Regions from separate parts of the Homo sapiens genome. Here region 1 is linked to region 2. A link means that fine-mapping ties the variant in region 2 to the expression of a gene that starts in the linked region. Tissue or cell type: whole blood. Region 2 holds a variant in brackets; the other region holds the start of a gene. All regions are shown on one strand. Distances are between the middles of the regions.

What was found. PIP is the estimated chance that this variant, and not a neighbour inherited with it, causes the effect.
Region 1: DAZAP2 starts here. The variant in region 2 is fine-mapped to the expression of DAZAP2 in whole blood (INTERVAL, PIP 0.98).

What each region holds. Positions count from the first base shown.
Region 1 is chr12:51,233,896-51,242,062 of GRCh38, forward strand. DAZAP2 (DAZ associated protein 2) reads left to right here and starts at 4,931. Exons shown (of 4, transcript NM_014764.4): 1 at 4,931-5,025; 2 at 6,448-6,566; 3 at 6,976-7,221. The coding sequence starts at 5,013. RefSeq lists enhancers at 3,981-4,618, 4,710-5,004, 4,928-5,177, 5,894-6,530 and a silencer at 4,728-4,837.
Region 2 is chr12:51,207,613-51,215,806 of GRCh38, forward strand. The region is part of intron 1 of POU6F1 (POU class 6 homeobox 1); the gene reads right to left. Among named protein-coding and RNA genes, the nearest start is that of POU6F1, 6.4 kb to the right of the region's middle. The variant T/A (reference allele first, on the strand shown) is at 4,370.

The DNA of each region.
Region 1 (8,167 bases), 26 kb after region 2:
CCCCTTATGTAACCACTTTTATAGGTATTTTGTGTATCCTTCCAGAATTTCTTTACTCAAATTCTGATGAATATTCTTGGTTTCCCTGCTCTTTGACATAAAAAGTATCATATTGGCCAGGTGCGGTGGCTCACGCCTGTAATCCCAGCACTTTGGGAGGGCGAGGCGGGTGGATCTCTCGAGGCCAGGAGTTCGAGACCAGCCTGGCCAACATGGCAAAACCCCGCCTGTACTGGAAATACAAAAACTAGCCAGGCATGGTGGTGCACACCTGTAATCCCAGCTACTTGGGAGGCTCAGGCACAAGAATTACTTGAACCTGGGAGGCAGAGGTTGCAGTGAACCGAGATCACGCCACTGCATTCCAGCCTGCGTGACAAGAGTGCAACTCTGTCTCAAAATAAAATAAAAAATAAAATAAATAAAATGTATCACACTAAGTATATGGTTTTGAATCTTTCCCTTTTTTATTTAAAGAACACCTTGGAGTACTTTCTCATTCTCTGTTGCAGCCACATAGTATTTTATTGTATGGATGTATCAAGATTTATTTTTTCTGTTTCCTATTGATAGAAATATGGGTTATTTCTAATCTTTTGCTGTTACAGAAAAGCTGCAATGAATAGCCTTATACATACGTTTCTCGTGAGTGCAAATATATCTGTAGAATCACTCCCATTAGTGGGAATGGTATGTTTGCAAGTTTGATGGATATTGCCAAATTAACCTTATAGGATTTGTACCAATTTTCACCCCCATCACCAACAAATTAGAATGCCTGCTTATCCACAGCCCTGCAAATAATGTTAGCAAATGTTTGGATTTTCGCCAATCTGATAATGATATCGGTGGGGTTTAATCTGCCTTCTGATTACGACCCAGGCTGAACATCATTTCATGTGTTAGGGAGTCATTTGTTTTTCCTTTTCTGTGAACTGTCTGTCTGTAAATGTCATTTGCCATTTTTTTCTAATGGTTGATCATATTCTTACTGATGTCTAAGAGTTCTTTACATGCAGGAAGATTAGCTCTTTGTGATGTAAATTACAAATATATTTTTCCAATTTGTCATTTGACTATATGGAGTTTTGACTTTGTAGAAATTTTGTCCTGACATTAGTCCTGGAACTAGTCCAGTTGTTTCTGCTTCCTGGATATTTCTGGAATCCCCCCATTTCTCTCTACTGTACTGCCTCTTCCCTAGGCCAGTCTGCCATCATCACACCTAAATGACTAAATTTGATTCTAAATGGTATCTCAGACATACGTCCACTCTTGCCCTTTCTTTAACCTATTCTATATTCTTTAGCAACCAGAGGGATTTTTCCTTTTCTTTTCTTTATTTTTTTGAGATAGCCTCTATCACCGAGGCTGGCAGAGTACAGTGGTGTGACCACGACTCACTGCAGCCTCGACCTCCCGGGCTCAAGCAGTCCTCCTATCTCAACCCCTCGAGTAGCTGGGATCACAGGTGCGTGCCTCTATGCCTGGATACTTTTTTAGAAATTTCTTGCCGAGATGGGGTTTCACCACGTTGCACAGGCTGGTCTTGAACTCTTGGGCTCAAAGAATCCTCCTGCCTTGGACTCCCAAATTGTTGGGAATGCAGGCATGAGCCACTGTGCCTGGCCCAGAAGCATTTTTCTAAAAGAAAAACACAAGCCAGGAGCAGTGGATCACGCCTGTAATCCCAAGTTTGGGAGGCCGAGGCAGGAGGATTGCTTGAGGCCAGGAGTTCTAGACTACTCTAGGCAACAAAGTGAGACTCTGTCTCTATAAAAAATTTAAAATTAGCCAGGCATGGTGGCAAGCACCCACTGTCCCAGCTACTCGGGAGGCTGAGGTGAGAGGATGAACTGAGACCAGGAGTTCAACGTTGCCGTGAGCTGTGACTGCACCACTGCACTCCAGCTTGGGTGACAGAGCAAGACCCTGTCCCAATCAATCAATCAATCAAACAAAAACAAGATCATATCACTTTCCTGCTTAACATTCTTCAGTGGCTAACTAGTGCCCTTAACATAGAATCCAGTATCTTCATGTGGGATCTTACATGGGCTCTAAGGCGTCCCTGCAAGGTCTGGCTCACAGTTCTTCAGCGTCAATTTTTTTTTTTTTTTTTTTGAGACAGAATCTTGCTCTGTCACCCAGGCTGGAGTGCAATGGCACGATCGCGGCTCACTGCAACCTCCGCCTCCCAGGTTCATGCAATTCTCCTGCCTCAGCCTCCCAAGTAGCTGGGATTACAGGCACGCACCACCATGCCCAGCTAATTTTTGTGTTTTTAGTAGAGACGAGGTTTCCCCATGTTGGCCAGGCTGGTCTCGAACTCCTGACCTCAAGTCATTTGCCCGCCTTGGCCTCCCAAAGTGCTGGGATTACAGGCATGAGCCACCGCACCCGGATCTTCAGGGTCATCTTTTATCAGTCCCCTTACCAGTATGCTCTGGCTACACTGAACTCTTTCATGCCCTCCCCCTCTATAAGCCTTCTCACCTCTAGGCCTTTGCATAAGCAGTTCCCTCTTCCAGGAACCCTCTTCACTTGCTTAACCTGCTCTCACCCTTCAGATTTCATCTCAGACATCACTTGCATCAGGAAACCTTCCCTGACTACATCAGAATAGAGTAGGTGCCTCACCTATGTGTTCTCCTCACACTCCATGCTGTCTTTATGTCAGCACTAATCATATTATGTGTTCACTTTTCTGTCTCTCCCATTAGGTAGACCATAAATTCCATGAGAGTATGGACTATGCCTGTCTCTTCATTATTATTTCCCTAGTGCCTGTCACAGGGCCTGGCACATAATAGGTGCTCAAAAAATATTTGTTAAATTAATGTAAGAAAGAATGTTTGATAAATGACCAAATAAACATCTTCATCTCATTGGGGAATCTACGAGAATGAAGAAAATGCCAAAGTTTGATCCTGTTCAAGAAAGTAGCTAATTACTACTACTTTTTTTTGTAGAGATGAAGTCTCACTATGCTGCCTAGGCTGGTTCTGAACTCCTGGCTCAAGCGATCCTCCTGCCTAGGCTGCCCAAAGTGTTGGGATTACAGGTGTGAGCTGTTGCACCCAGCCACCATTTACTTCTTAATTCCACCTGCCAGAGAAAGCACTGGCCTGCAACTCTTTCATTTTTGTTAGTAATCTCATTTGGCTCTGCCCTGGTTTTCCCAATGCCCAGGTCCCACTGTGACAAGCAAAATACCCAACAACCTGTAAAGTAGGCCTGACCAATCTGAGGGCAGTTTACATGAGCAGGAGGTAGGCCCAGGAGAGTTCCTGGGTCCTAAGAGTTAACCCTTTAATCATTGGACAATGGAGGTGGCAAGATCGCTTGAGGCTGGAAATTCAAGACCAGCCTGGCCAACACAGGGAGACCCCATCTCTGTATTAAAAAATGAATAGCACGTGCCTGTAATCCCAGCTAGTCGGGAGGCTGAGGCAGGAGAATCGCTTAGAACCCTGGAGGCGGAGGTTGCAGTGAGCTGAGATTGCGCCACTGCACTCCAGCCTGGCGACAGACCAAGCCTCTGTCTCAAAAATAAATAAATAAATAAATAAATAAATAAATAAATAAATAAATAAATAAAAATAAGGCTCGGCGCAGTGGCTTATGCCTGTAATCCCAGAACCTTGGGAGGCCGAGGCAGGTGGATCACCTGAGGTCAGGAGTTCGAGACCAGCCTGGCCAACATGGTGAAACCCCGTCTCTACTAAAAAATACAAAATTTGCCGGTCGTGGTGGCGGGCACCTGTAATCCCAGCTATTCGGGAGGCTGAGGCAGGAGAATTGCTTGAACCCAGGAGGCGGAGGTTGCAGTGAACCGAGATCATGCCACTGCACTCCAGCCTGGGCGACAGAGCAAGACTCCATCTCAAAAAAAAAAAAAAAAAAAAAAAGAAAAGAAAAAATTAAAACTTTTTTTAGAAAGAAAGAAAACCAGCCTGGCCAACATAGTGAAACCCCGTCTCTACTAAAAATACAAAAATTAGCCAGGAATGGTGGCGCACGCCTGTAGGCCCAGCTACTCAGGAAGCTGAGGCAGGAGAATTGCCTGAACCCGGGAGGTGGAGGCTGTGGTGAGATCGCCCCACTGCACTCTAGCCTGGGCAAGCGAGCAAGACTCCGTCTCAAAAAAAAAAGAAAAAGAAAAGAAAACACTTAATCGCTGCCCTAAAGGATGCCATCTTTGCCCTTAAGGATAATTAGGTTAGAAAGAGAAGCCATACATAGAGAAAAATAGAGGTACCATACAGGTCACCTGCAACAGGTGCTAAAAAAAGGAAAGGGCCACAAACACTCCATGGGTAGTGCAGTTATGTCAGTTTCAGTGCCAGGTGTTGCGTACAGCACGGAAAACATAACCCCTTCCTGTACGTGAGAAAGGCAACGACTGTCCTGGGGAAGACAGGGCAGCGAAGATTCCAGTGCAGGTCTCATTCAGGAAAGGATACATGTGAGCTGGAGTGGCAAAATAAATTTTAACAGAGCTGAAGCTTAAGTTGGGCTTGGTGGGGAGGGACGCATGATAAACTAAGGTGTGGGGAGCCGATTTCAGGCAGTGCGACAAATTTGCAGAAATCTAAGCCCCTCGTGGAAGGTTGCCAAGGTGAGGTGACCTTGAGTGAATGCGTGTAGGTGGAAAAAGGTTCCGGGGAATGCTTGCATCGTTCTGCATCCGAGCGTCCAACAGAGAAAAGATCCTGTTTCCAGACAATACCTGCATTTGGTTTTTCTCCAGCTGAGGGACACCGGTAGGGGGGGGGAGGACAGAAACGAGCAGGGGGTGGGGCCAAGGCGAGTGGGCGGGACCGCGCGGACCCTCCCGCGGCCGACTGGAGGCCCGGAGCAGGGGCGGAGTTTCCGGCGGCAGCGCCACTCGGGCGTCGGGTGACGCTAGGCGGACGGACCATCATGTGACACGGAAGTAGCTCCGAACAGGAAGAGGACGAAAAAAATAACCGTCCGCGACGCCGAGACAAACCGGACCCGCAACCACCATGAACAGCAAAGGCAAGGACCGAGGGTGGCAGAGGCCGTCGGGGGGAGTACTGCTGGCCCAGAGCGAGCGGATTCGGAGCCCAGGGTCACCAAACGCCAGGTTTGGGGTGGGCTGCGCCATGCTCCTTGGCCGGCTGCAGTCCAGGGCGCTGCGCCTGACGCCTTCGTCATACCCAAATTACGGCAGCTTGCTGCCTCCAGGCCCTTTCCTCCGTAAACTCTGTGGCGCAGTTTGGAGCTGCGGGCTCGGGTGGTGGGGGGGCTTGACATGATGGGCATCCGCAGGAGCAAATAGAGCGCTAGCGCAGGCATTCGCGTAGGCCAATGGAGAGCCGGCGGAGGCGGGGCGCCGCGCTCCGGAACCCCCAGCGGGGCCGAACTTAACTACTGAATTGCTGGAGTTGGTTCGTGGGCCGGGGCCTGTGAGGTCTCTTTTCCTTCCCTTCGCACCCCCTCGCCCTTCGCTGACGGGATCAGAACTTCTCCCCTTTTCTGTGGTTGTACCAGTGTGTCTGTCGGAACATGATTCCCATAACGCAGGAATAGGTTGAGGGGGTAAAAAAGGAATAGAAAAAAAAAAAAAAAAAAGGCCGAGCGAGGTTGCTCACGCCTGTAATCCCAGCAGTTTGGGAGGTCGAGGCGGGCGGATCACCTGAGGTCAAGAGTTCGAGACCAGCCTGGCCAACGTGGTGAAACCCCGTCTCTATTAAAAAATACAAAAATCAGCTGGGCGTGGTGGCGGGCGCCTGTAATCCCAGCTACTCGGGAGGCTGGGGTAGGAGAATTGCTTGAACCCAGGAGACGGAGGTTGCAGTGAGCCGAGATCGCGCCACTGCACTCCAGCCTGGGCAAAAGAGCGAGACTCCGTCTCAGAACAAACAAAAAACCAAACCTGATCCCCCGCTTTTCCAGTGAGGATATTCCTCCTCACCCCTCAGCCCTGCACCCTTTTCCCAGTCTCACGGTTCACTTCCATCATTCACACCCTTTGTTTGGAAGTCGACCTTGAATAGTAATCTGTAAGGAAAATCAGAACTGCTGTTACCCACGAAGTCTGGGCTGGTTGTAGACAGGCTGTGGAGACTACCTAGAGCAGAGGCACCCTTGATAAGCCAGAACAGCAGCAGGCCAGAACCCCAGACCTGTCCTGCATTCCGGAGGGAACTTGGGCCCAGGTAGACTTAACCCCTTACTTCGGTATGTTAGTAGGAGCAGTGAGCAGTGCCTTTCTTGTCTCGTTAGAATCCAGCACCTTCCATTTTAAGGGTGCAAAGACAATGCATATTTTCTTAGTTCCAGGAATCAGGCCCTCTGGGGCAGACTATTTGCAAATCCCCTTCTGCTTGCTCCCACTAAGTTAGCTACCCGATATGACCTGCCTCATTTTGGTAGCTCTGTGTAGTAGGCAACCTTCATTTTTTTCTTGTCTTTCAGGTCAATATCCAACACAGCCAACCTACCCTGTGCAGCCTCCTGGGAATCCAGTATACCCTCAGACCTTGCATCTTCCTCAGGCTCCACCCTATACCGATGCTCCACCTGCCTACTCAGAGGTGCTTCCAGTTTGCCAGATTTGAACTAGCTGGGAATACTCTTAGGGTGGTCCTTTAGTCCTTAGCTAAATCTGACTTCACATATTTACTCTTCACAAATGCTAACATGAATAATCTAAAACACTATATAATTTGGCAATTTTTGTCGGAGTTGAAAGTGCATTATTTGATGATTTTGTGTTATTTGGCACAGGCTAAGGTGCAGAAGATGAATTTGCGTTCTGTGAGCCCAACATTAGCTATAGCAGAAAGTGATCCAGGAGAATATTGAAGGCCAGTGGAAAGGCAACTTGTATAATCTTACAAAAAGTATAACCTGCATAAGGAGAATTAAGAATTAGCTCATTAAAGAGATCTCAAATAGGAATGTCATAAAGTAACATTTTGCCTTCTCTTCTGCCTCTTCTAGCTCTATCGTCCGAGCTTTGTGCACCCAGGGGCTGCCACAGTCCCCACCATGTCAGCCGCATTTCCTGGAGCCTCTCTGTATCTTCCCATGGCCCAGTCTGTGGCTGTTGGGCCTTTAGGTTCCACAATCCCCATGGCTTATTATCCAGTCGGTCCCATCTATCCACCTGGCTCCACAGTGCTGGTGGAAGGAGGGTATGATGCAGGTGCCAGATTTGGAGCTGGGGCTACTGCTGGCAACATTCCTGTGAGTATGACCTCATCAGAAGAAACTCAGCCCTTGTGTATTTTAACTTTCTGAAATGACTTCATATTCATTCTCTTACCATTTCTGGATGATAGTTGCCAGTGTTGGTACAACTACTGACATCCAATACTCAGGCAGAAAGTGTTTGAGGGGGCAGAACTGTGGCAAGTGAGTAGCATCTCACTGGGGGCTGAGTTAACCAGATTCTTTTGTTTTCATGTCTGTCGAGTCCTGCTTGCTGCTTTTCCAGTTCATTGTGGTACACTGAACTGGTCTAGTAATGCTCCTTATTCATTCCATAAGCATTTACCATTTACTTAATATTTGCCATCAGCATGGTGTTGCACTAGGAACCCTGATAATTAAAAAAGTAGAATGTATAATCCCTAGTAAGTAGCTTTTAGAAAGATATTAACAATTTTAGTTATCATTTTTTCCTACTTAATTCCCCAGTGCGTGGGATTTAGAGCTCAAATGACTGCTCAGTAACTACATGCTAGAGATGAAGTGAATGTGTCATTAGCGAGCCTTCAGTTTTCCAGTAGTTCATTCAAAAACTGTGTAAGGGCGAAGCACGGTGGCTCACCTGAGGTCAGGAGTTTGAGACCAGGCTGGCCAACATGGTGAAACCCCGACTCTACTATAAATACAAAAATTAGCCGGGCATGGTGGCAGGCGTCTGTAATCCCAGCTACTTGGGAGGCTAAGACAGGAGAATCACTTGAACCTGGGAGGTGGAGGTTGCAGTGAGCTGAGATCCCACCACTGCACTCCAGCCTGGGCGACAAGAGCAAGACTCTATCTCAAAAAAATTAAAAAAAAAAAAAATTAAAAATTAAAAACTATGTAGGGACCATGTGGGATTCATACATGGACTGGCACCCTGTCCCTGTTTTGGGAATGTGAGTAGGACAGTGGTTCTCTACCCTCAAAATGACTGTTGGTC
Region 2 (8,194 bases):
GATCATCACCTGGAGCACTTAGTAAAAATGTTAGTATTTATATCAATTAAAGTACAGAGTAGAGTGGGACTCAGTCTCACTAAATAAATAAAATACAGAGTAATAATTTAAAAATAAAAATGTAAATGCAGACCCTTAGACCTTTTCACCCAACTACTCTCAGAGAGTCTGATTCAGTGGGTGAACATCACAGAATCAGCTCTCAGGTGACTCTGTGACAGTGGCCCAAAGACCACAGTGGCCTGTAACAGAGGAGGTGGGACATCCCAGATGGTGGAACAGCCTGCCCTGTGCAGTGAGGAGTGGGTGAAGCCCTCATGTGAGGACAGGTTGTCTGACTAGAGCCACAAACTACAGTCGTAAGAAATAAAGAAAATAGGTTGGGCGCAGAGGCTCACGCCTGTAATCCCAGAACTTTGGGAGGCCAAGGCAGGAGGATCACCTGAGTCCAGGAGTTCCAGACCAGCTTGGGCAACATAGTGAGGCCCTGTCTGTACCAAAAAAAAAAAAAAAAAAATTAGCTGGGCATGATGGCGCATGCCTATAGTCCCAGCTACTCAGGAGGCTGAGGTGGGAAGATCGCTTGAGCCTGGGAGGTGGGAAGATCGCTTGAGCCTGGGAGGCAGAGGTTGCAGTGAGCAGTGAGTGGTGCACTCCAGCCTGGGTTACAGAACCAGACCCTGTCTCAAAAAAGAGAGAGAGAGAGAGACAGAGAATCAGGCAAATAGCTTTAGACACTTTTAAAGGAAAAAAAGCAATTGACATTTATTTCGAGTGCATATTGTATGCTAGACATTTTATATAACACAATTGCTTGCTGTATTACTCATGCCAACCCTGGGGGCGTGGGGAATGGGAGGCATTATTATCCGCATGTTACAGATGGTGAAACAAAGCCCAGAGGGGTGTTCTGGATTCACCTTTCCTTTCTGCTATGGTCTGAATGTGTCCTTCCCCGCAAATTCATGTGTTGAAATGCTAATCCCCAAGGTGGATAGTATTAAGAGATAGGGCCTCTGGAAGGTAATTAGGAATGGGATTAGTGCCCATATAAAAAAGAACCAAGGCTCATGCCTGTAATCCCAGGACTTAGGCAGGTGGACTGCTTGAGCCCAGGAGTTCGAGACTAGCCTGGACAACATGGTGAAACCCCGTCTCTACAAAAAGTACAAAAAGTAGCTGAGCGTAGTGGTGCATACCTGTAGTCCCAGCTACTCAGGAGATTGAGGCAGGAGGATCACTTGAGCCCAGGAGGTTGAGGCTGTGGTGAGCAGTGATTTCGCCACTGCACTCCAGCCTGGGCAACAGAGAGACCCCAGTGTGAGAGAGATACTTTCACCCTTTCGACTATGTGAGGACACAGCAATAAGGCTCTGTCAGTGAGGAAGTGGGTCCTCACCAGACAACACCACCTTGATCTTGGACTTCCCACCTTCAGTACTATGAGAAATAAATTTCTGTTGTTTAAAAGCTACCCAGTTTATGGTATTTTGTTATAGCAGCCCAAACAGACTACGATAAATTCACATCCCATACAATTAACCATTTTAGCCACTTTAAAGTGCTCCGTACAGTGGAATCTGGTGGGTTCACACTTGTGCCACCATCACCACTGTCTAGTCCCAGAACATTTTCATCAACCCAAAAGGAAACTCCATATCCACTAACAGTCATTCACCTTCCACTGCCACCGCCCAAGCCCTGGCAACTACTGATGTGCTTTCTCTATGGGGTTCCCTATTCTGGATATTTCATGTAAATGGAATGATAGAATATGTCGCTTTGTGTGTCTAGCTTCTTTTACTTGGCATGTTTCCAAGGTTCATCCACATTGTAGCATGTGTCAGAACTTCATTCCTTTTCATGGCTGAATAGTATTCTATTGTATGGATACACTATATTTTGTTTATCCATTCATTAGTTGGTGGACATTTGGGTTGTTCTACCTTTTGGCTATTGCAAATAGTGTATTATGACTATTGGGTATAATTTTTTTTGAACACCTGCTTCCAATTCTTTGGGTATATACCTAGGAATGGAATTGCTGGATCACCCCTGGGGTTTTAGCATCTTCATTGCTTGGCAGAATGTTCCCTGATCAACCAGGTAAGGAGAACCATGAGGTTCTTTCCCTCCTCTTCCTTCCTTAACCCCTCTAGAGTGGGATTCAAGAGAGGGCAAGCAATTCCAGGTACCTAACAATTTGAAAAAAGAGGAAATGAGCCTTCCCCTTTCAGGTAGGATGAGGGGGTGCAGGAGGGGCAGAGGAATTTGCTGAAAGAACTGGTGAGCATCTAACTACCTCAATGGGGCTCTAGCCTCCTTCTTAGGTGATGTCTCCCCTCAGATTTTTTTTTTGTTTTGAGATAGGGTCTTGCTCTGTTGCCCAGGCTGTAATGCAGTGGCATGACCATGGCTCATTGCAGCCTCAAACTCCCAGCCTCAAGTGATCCTTCCACCTTAACCACCAGAGTAGCTGGGACTACCCATGGCCAGCTAATTTTTTTTATTTTTTATTTTTGGTAGATATGAGGTCTCACTATGTTGCCAGGGCTAGTCTTAAACTCCTGTCTCCCCAGATTTTGTACATGGTAGTCTTCCATGAGTTTTTCAGAGAACTTGGCAATTTACCATCACTTCTGGGTAGGAACTGGGATAAGCTATGAAAGTCGTTACACATAGAAGCCATTTGCAAAGAAAATAAGAGGAAGAGACAAAATTGAAATGAAAGCTGCACAAGGTGAATCTGGGTGCATTATAGCTTGATACATACATTTCTTGGGGAGAAGAATTTTCCAATTCCAAAGGTCATTAGGCGTAAGGCAGCAGTAGCCAATCTTTGTAGGACAACAAGGCATCTGCTTGAGAGGAGCGTTAAGTCTGCTCATAGTCTTGTTGTGGCGTCTGGCTCCTTGCTGCCAACTATGGCCACTCACAGGGAGTGGCTGAGCAGGGGCAAGCGTCCACTTTGTGACTGTGTTATTAGGAGGATTCAGGTAGTGATAAGGCTTGGGTGATTCTGATATCCCTTTCACCCTTAAAATTTGACGAGCTTTGAGGACCTGGGTCCTCAGTGTCTGGTCCTTTAAGTCAAGGGCAAAGTCAGTCCTGAGACATAGCCTCTAGCCACACCTAAGCCCACTCCAACCCACCCACCAGATTTCATTCAGCCCACCAGAAATCCAGGCAGAGCAGAGTCCAAGACCTCCTTTGTCTCAGATCTCAGACTCCCTTGTCTGTCTCTGTCTTACCTTTAGATGGCTCCTATTACACATGTATGTGATATCAACGTCTCTCTGACAAGTAGACACTCAGCATTTTGACTCTGAGCTGTACCCTGTGTGTTCCCCTTGCTTGGTATCTGTGCAGACTTTCCTCTGGACCTGCTGCCATCTCCTTGTCAGGAACTTTCCAAATTTTTTTTGAGCCTCAGGCTGTGGCTTGGTTCCAGTGACTAGACAGCCCTCTTCAGTTTGCTTTTTGACCATTTCCCCAATGACTGCATAAATAGCACATCTGGATGGCCTCCTTTAAGCCCATGATGCTGTGCAGTGCCCACAGCCTGAAGGCCAGGGAGGAGAGACAATCAGCTGTCTGTTTCAAGAGAAGGAGCTCCTGTCCCCATCCCAGCAGTAGAATCCCAATACATACACAGATCACAGCAGAGCTGCTCTGGTTAAAGCTGGGGAGAGAGCCAGAGCCCACCAAGGGCCCTCTCCTTTGCCTTCTTTCTCCAGTGAGTTGACTTTGAAAAACGCCTGGATCAGGGCTGGCAAGGCACTCTGGTTGGCTAGCAAATGGCTCACTTATCCCTTGCTTTCCTTGCTAACATCTAAAAACGCAGGCAGGGCTGGGCACAGTAGCTCACACCTACAATCTCAATGCTTTGGGAGGCTGAAGGGGGAGGATTGCTTGAGCTCAGGAGTTTGATATCTTCCTGGGCAATGCAGGGAGACTCTGTCTCTACAAAAAATTGAAAAAATAAAATAAACTAGCCAGGTGTAGTGGTACACGCCTATGGTTCCAGCCACTTGGGAAGCTGAGGTAGGAGGATTGATTGAGCCCCAGAGTTCAAGGCTGCAGTGAGTCGTGATCACGCCACTACACTCCAGCCTGCACTCCTTGACAGAGCAAGACCTTGTCCCTAATAAATAAATAAATATACAAACAAAAACCCAAGCAGCCTCAGGGGTAGAAGGAACAGCAAGTGCTAAGGCATTTGCCTACCACCTGAGAATCCAAAGAGGTCCAGGGCCATGCAGGATTTTCAGCGGGGGAGAATGAGCTAGAGGACCTAGTTCTGCCTGTCATTCTCCTCTGGAACTGCTCTGGGCTTAGTGCAACATTCCAAGATACCCAGGAGGAGAAC[T/A]GGGATATCCCAAACAAATCAGAACTCCCTAGAATAGTCTGAGATCCTATTAGAAGAAATCCTGAAATGCCTTGCCTTTCGTTTTTTTTTTTGTTTTTTTTGTTTTGTTTGTTTGTTTGTTTGTTTGTTTGAGACGGAGTCTGGCTCTGTCACCCAGGCTGGAGTCCAGTGGCACAATCTCGGCTCACCGCAACCTCCGCCTCCCGGGTTCAGGTGATTCTCCTGCCTCAGCCTCCTGAGTAGCTGGGACTACAGGTGCGCGCCACCATGCCCAGCTAATTTTTGTATTTTTAGTAGAGACGGGGTTTCACCATGTTGGCCAGGCTGGTCTCGAACTCCTGACCTCGTGATCTGCCTGTCTCAGCTTCCCAAAGTGCTGGGATTACAGGCATGAGCCACTGCGCCCAGCCAAACCTTTGTTTTTTCAACGCATGTTTCAGTGGCTACTATGTGCTAGGCACTGGGAATTCAATGGGGAAAACACATTTCCCACCTTTGTCAAGAAATCTATAGTCCAGGCCGGGCGTGGTGGTTCTTGCCTGTAATCCCGGCACTTTGGGAGGCTGAGGCGAGTAGATCACCTGAGGACGGGAGTTCGAGACCAGTCTGATCAACATGGAGAAACCCCGTCTCTACTAAAAATACAAAATTAGCCTGGGGTGGTGGCACATGCCTGTAATCCCAGCTACTCGGGAGGCTGAGGCAGGAGAATCGCTTGAACAACAGGGAGGCAGAGGTGAGCCAAGATCGCACCATTGCACTCCAGCCTGGGCAACAAGAGTGAAACTCCGTCTCAAAAAAAAAAAAAAAAAAAAAAAAAGAAAGCTATAGTCCAATATGGGAGTCAAGGAAATAAGAAGGTAACTACAATACAGTATGCTTAAGTTTCATGGTGGGTGAACAGAAAGCAGTAAAGAATCTACAAGAGGGACACCTAACACCTAATGACCTAATGCAGTTGTTTTTTTTTTTCGAGGCGGAGTCTCGCTCTGTCACCCAGGTTGGAGTGCAGCGGCGGGATCTCGGCTTACTGCAACCTCCGCCTCCCAGGTTCAAGCAATTCTTCTGCCTCGGCCTCCTGAGTAGCTGGGACTACAGGTGCGCATCACCGCACCAGGCTGATTTTTGTATTTTTAGTAGAGACGGGGTTTCACCATGTTGCCCAGGTTAGTCAGGAACTCCTGACCTCAGATGATTCACCCGCCTTGGCCTCCCAAAGTGCTGGGATTACAGGCGTGAGCCACCGCGCCCGGCCTCTAATGCAGTTTTATGTGGTGCTTGTTCCCAGGGAGGCCTGTATTTCAGACATGAAATTTTATGTAAAAGAATCTTGTCCTATGTAGGAAAATGGAACTTGTATGGGATTCAGACTTTTAAACTCAGATCCATTTCTGGTTTTATTATCATTTTTTTTCAGAGACAGGGTCTTTCCATGTTGCCTAAGCTGGTTTCCAACTCCTGGGCTCAAATTATCTTCCCACCTCAGCCTCCCAAAGTGCTGGTATTACTGGCATGAGCCACCATACCTGGCCCATTTCTATGGTTTATTTTATTTTATTTTATTTTTTTGAGACGAGGACTTGCTCTTGTTGCCCAGGCTGGAGTGCAGTGGCATGATCTCGGCTAACTGCAACCTCTGCCTCCCAGGTTCAAACGATTCTCCTGCCTCAACCTCCCGAGTAGCTGGGACTACAGGCGCCCACCACCTTGCTCAGCTAATTTTTGTATTTTTAGTAGAGACGGGGTTTCCCCATATTGGCCAGGCTGGTCTCGAACTCCTGACTTTGTGATCTGCCCACCTCGGCCTCCCAAAGTTCTGGGATTACAGGCGTGAGCCACCACATCCGGCCTAATTTCGTTATCTTTAAAATGGTGACTAGGCCAGGCGCAGTGGCTCACACCTGTAATTCCAGCACTTTGGGAGGCCAAGGCAGGAGGATCACCTGAGGTCAGGAGTTCAAGACCAGCCTGGCCAACATGGGGAAACCCCATCTCTACTAAAAATACAAAACTTAGCTGGGTGTGGTGGCGGGTGCCTGTAATCTCAGTTACTTGGGTAGCTAAGGCAGGAGAATCGCTTGAACCGGGAGGCGGAGGTTGCAGTGAGCCGAGATCATGCCATTGCACTCCTGTCTGGGAGACACAGTGAGACTCTATGTCAAAAAAATAAATAAATAAAAATAAATAAATAAATAAATAAATAAAATGGTGATTAAATAGGCAAGCCCTATGGGATTGTTATGATGGTGATATGAGATCATGTAAATGAAATGCTTAGCATGACTCTTACCACAATCATCTTCATTTTTATCTATATGTACATAGAGGTAGAGAGAGGTCAGGTGACTTGACCAAGGGCACAGGAGAGTCAGTGGCAGATTCAAACTTCAAGGCTCTGTCGACCTGCCCCGGACCCCATCCTCCTGACACCACACAGAACCTCCTCTCAGGAAATGGGGGTAAGGCTGATGGGGACTGCTCTGGTCCCCAAGGCTCAGGACACACTGGAAAACAGAGGATCTCAATTCTGCTCCACACCGACGCCTGTCCCCACACCCTGAACCATGAGCAGAGATAACAGTCTTGCCAAGCTGTTGGTAGGCTAACAGCTAGGCACACACAGGCCAGAGAAAGGAAAAAGAATGATGAGGTGACCAAATAAATAGGAGAGTAGAGTCAAGGGTAGTAGCTCACACCTGTAATCCCAGCACTTTGGGAGGCTGAGGCGGGTGGATCACTTGAGGTCAGGAGTTGGAGGGCAGCCTGGCCAACATGGTGCAACCCTATCTCTACCAAAACATAACAAACCCAAACAAACAAATAAAAAATTAGCTGGGTGTGGTGGCGCAGGCCTGTAGTCCCAGCTACTTGGGAGGCTGAGGCCAGAGAATCGCTTGAGCCCAAGAAGGTGAAGCTGCAGTGAGCCAAGATTGTGCCACTGCACCCCATCCTGGGTGACAGCAGAGTGAGAACCTGTCTCAAAAAAGAAAAAAAAAAGAAATGTGAAAAATGAAAAGTAGGTATGTTCCTAGTAGACTGTAAGCTCCAGGAAGGCAGGGATCATGTCTGCTTATCATCATATCCCTGGTGCCTAAGATAATATCTGGTATATAACTAGGTTCATGAATATGGGCTGAAAACAATTGAAGATACGAGGTCACGTCATAGCCACATCACTTAGCCTCTTATTATTTCCTACCTTTTCCCTCAAAACACACACCCTACTTCAAATGTTTTGCCTCCATTTCCAGTACTGGGGCTACTTAAAAATGATTTCAAAGACGTGGTACAGGCCGGGTGTGGTGGTTCACGTCTGTAATCCTAGCACTTTGGGAGGCCGAGGCGGGCGGATTACTTGAGGTCAGAAGTTCAAGACCAGCTTGGCCAACATGGTGAAACCCCGTCTCTACTGAAAATACAAAAATTAGCCAGGCATGGTGGTGTGCGCCTATAGTTCCAGCTAGTTGGGAGGCCGAGGTGGGAGAATTGCTTGAACCCGGGAGGTGGAGGTTGCAGTGAGACCAAGATCGCGCCACTGCACTCCAGACTGAGCGACAGAGTGAAACCCTGTCTCAAAAAAAAAAAAAAAAAAAAAAGAGAGATTTCCAAGGTGTAGTATTGGGTTCTGGAGAACCCAGACCACACTGGCCCCTTCCTAAAGCGCCCGTCTAATTTCTCATTCCAAGCCTTCCTCCTGTGGCCAGTTTCTCCTGCATCCCACTCTCTCTTCTGCCTCATGAACCCTCATTTTGACATGAGGGGTCAAAGGCAGGTTTAAAGGCAGAAGACCCAGCTTGAGTACTGCTTCTACTAGAGGTAATCCCT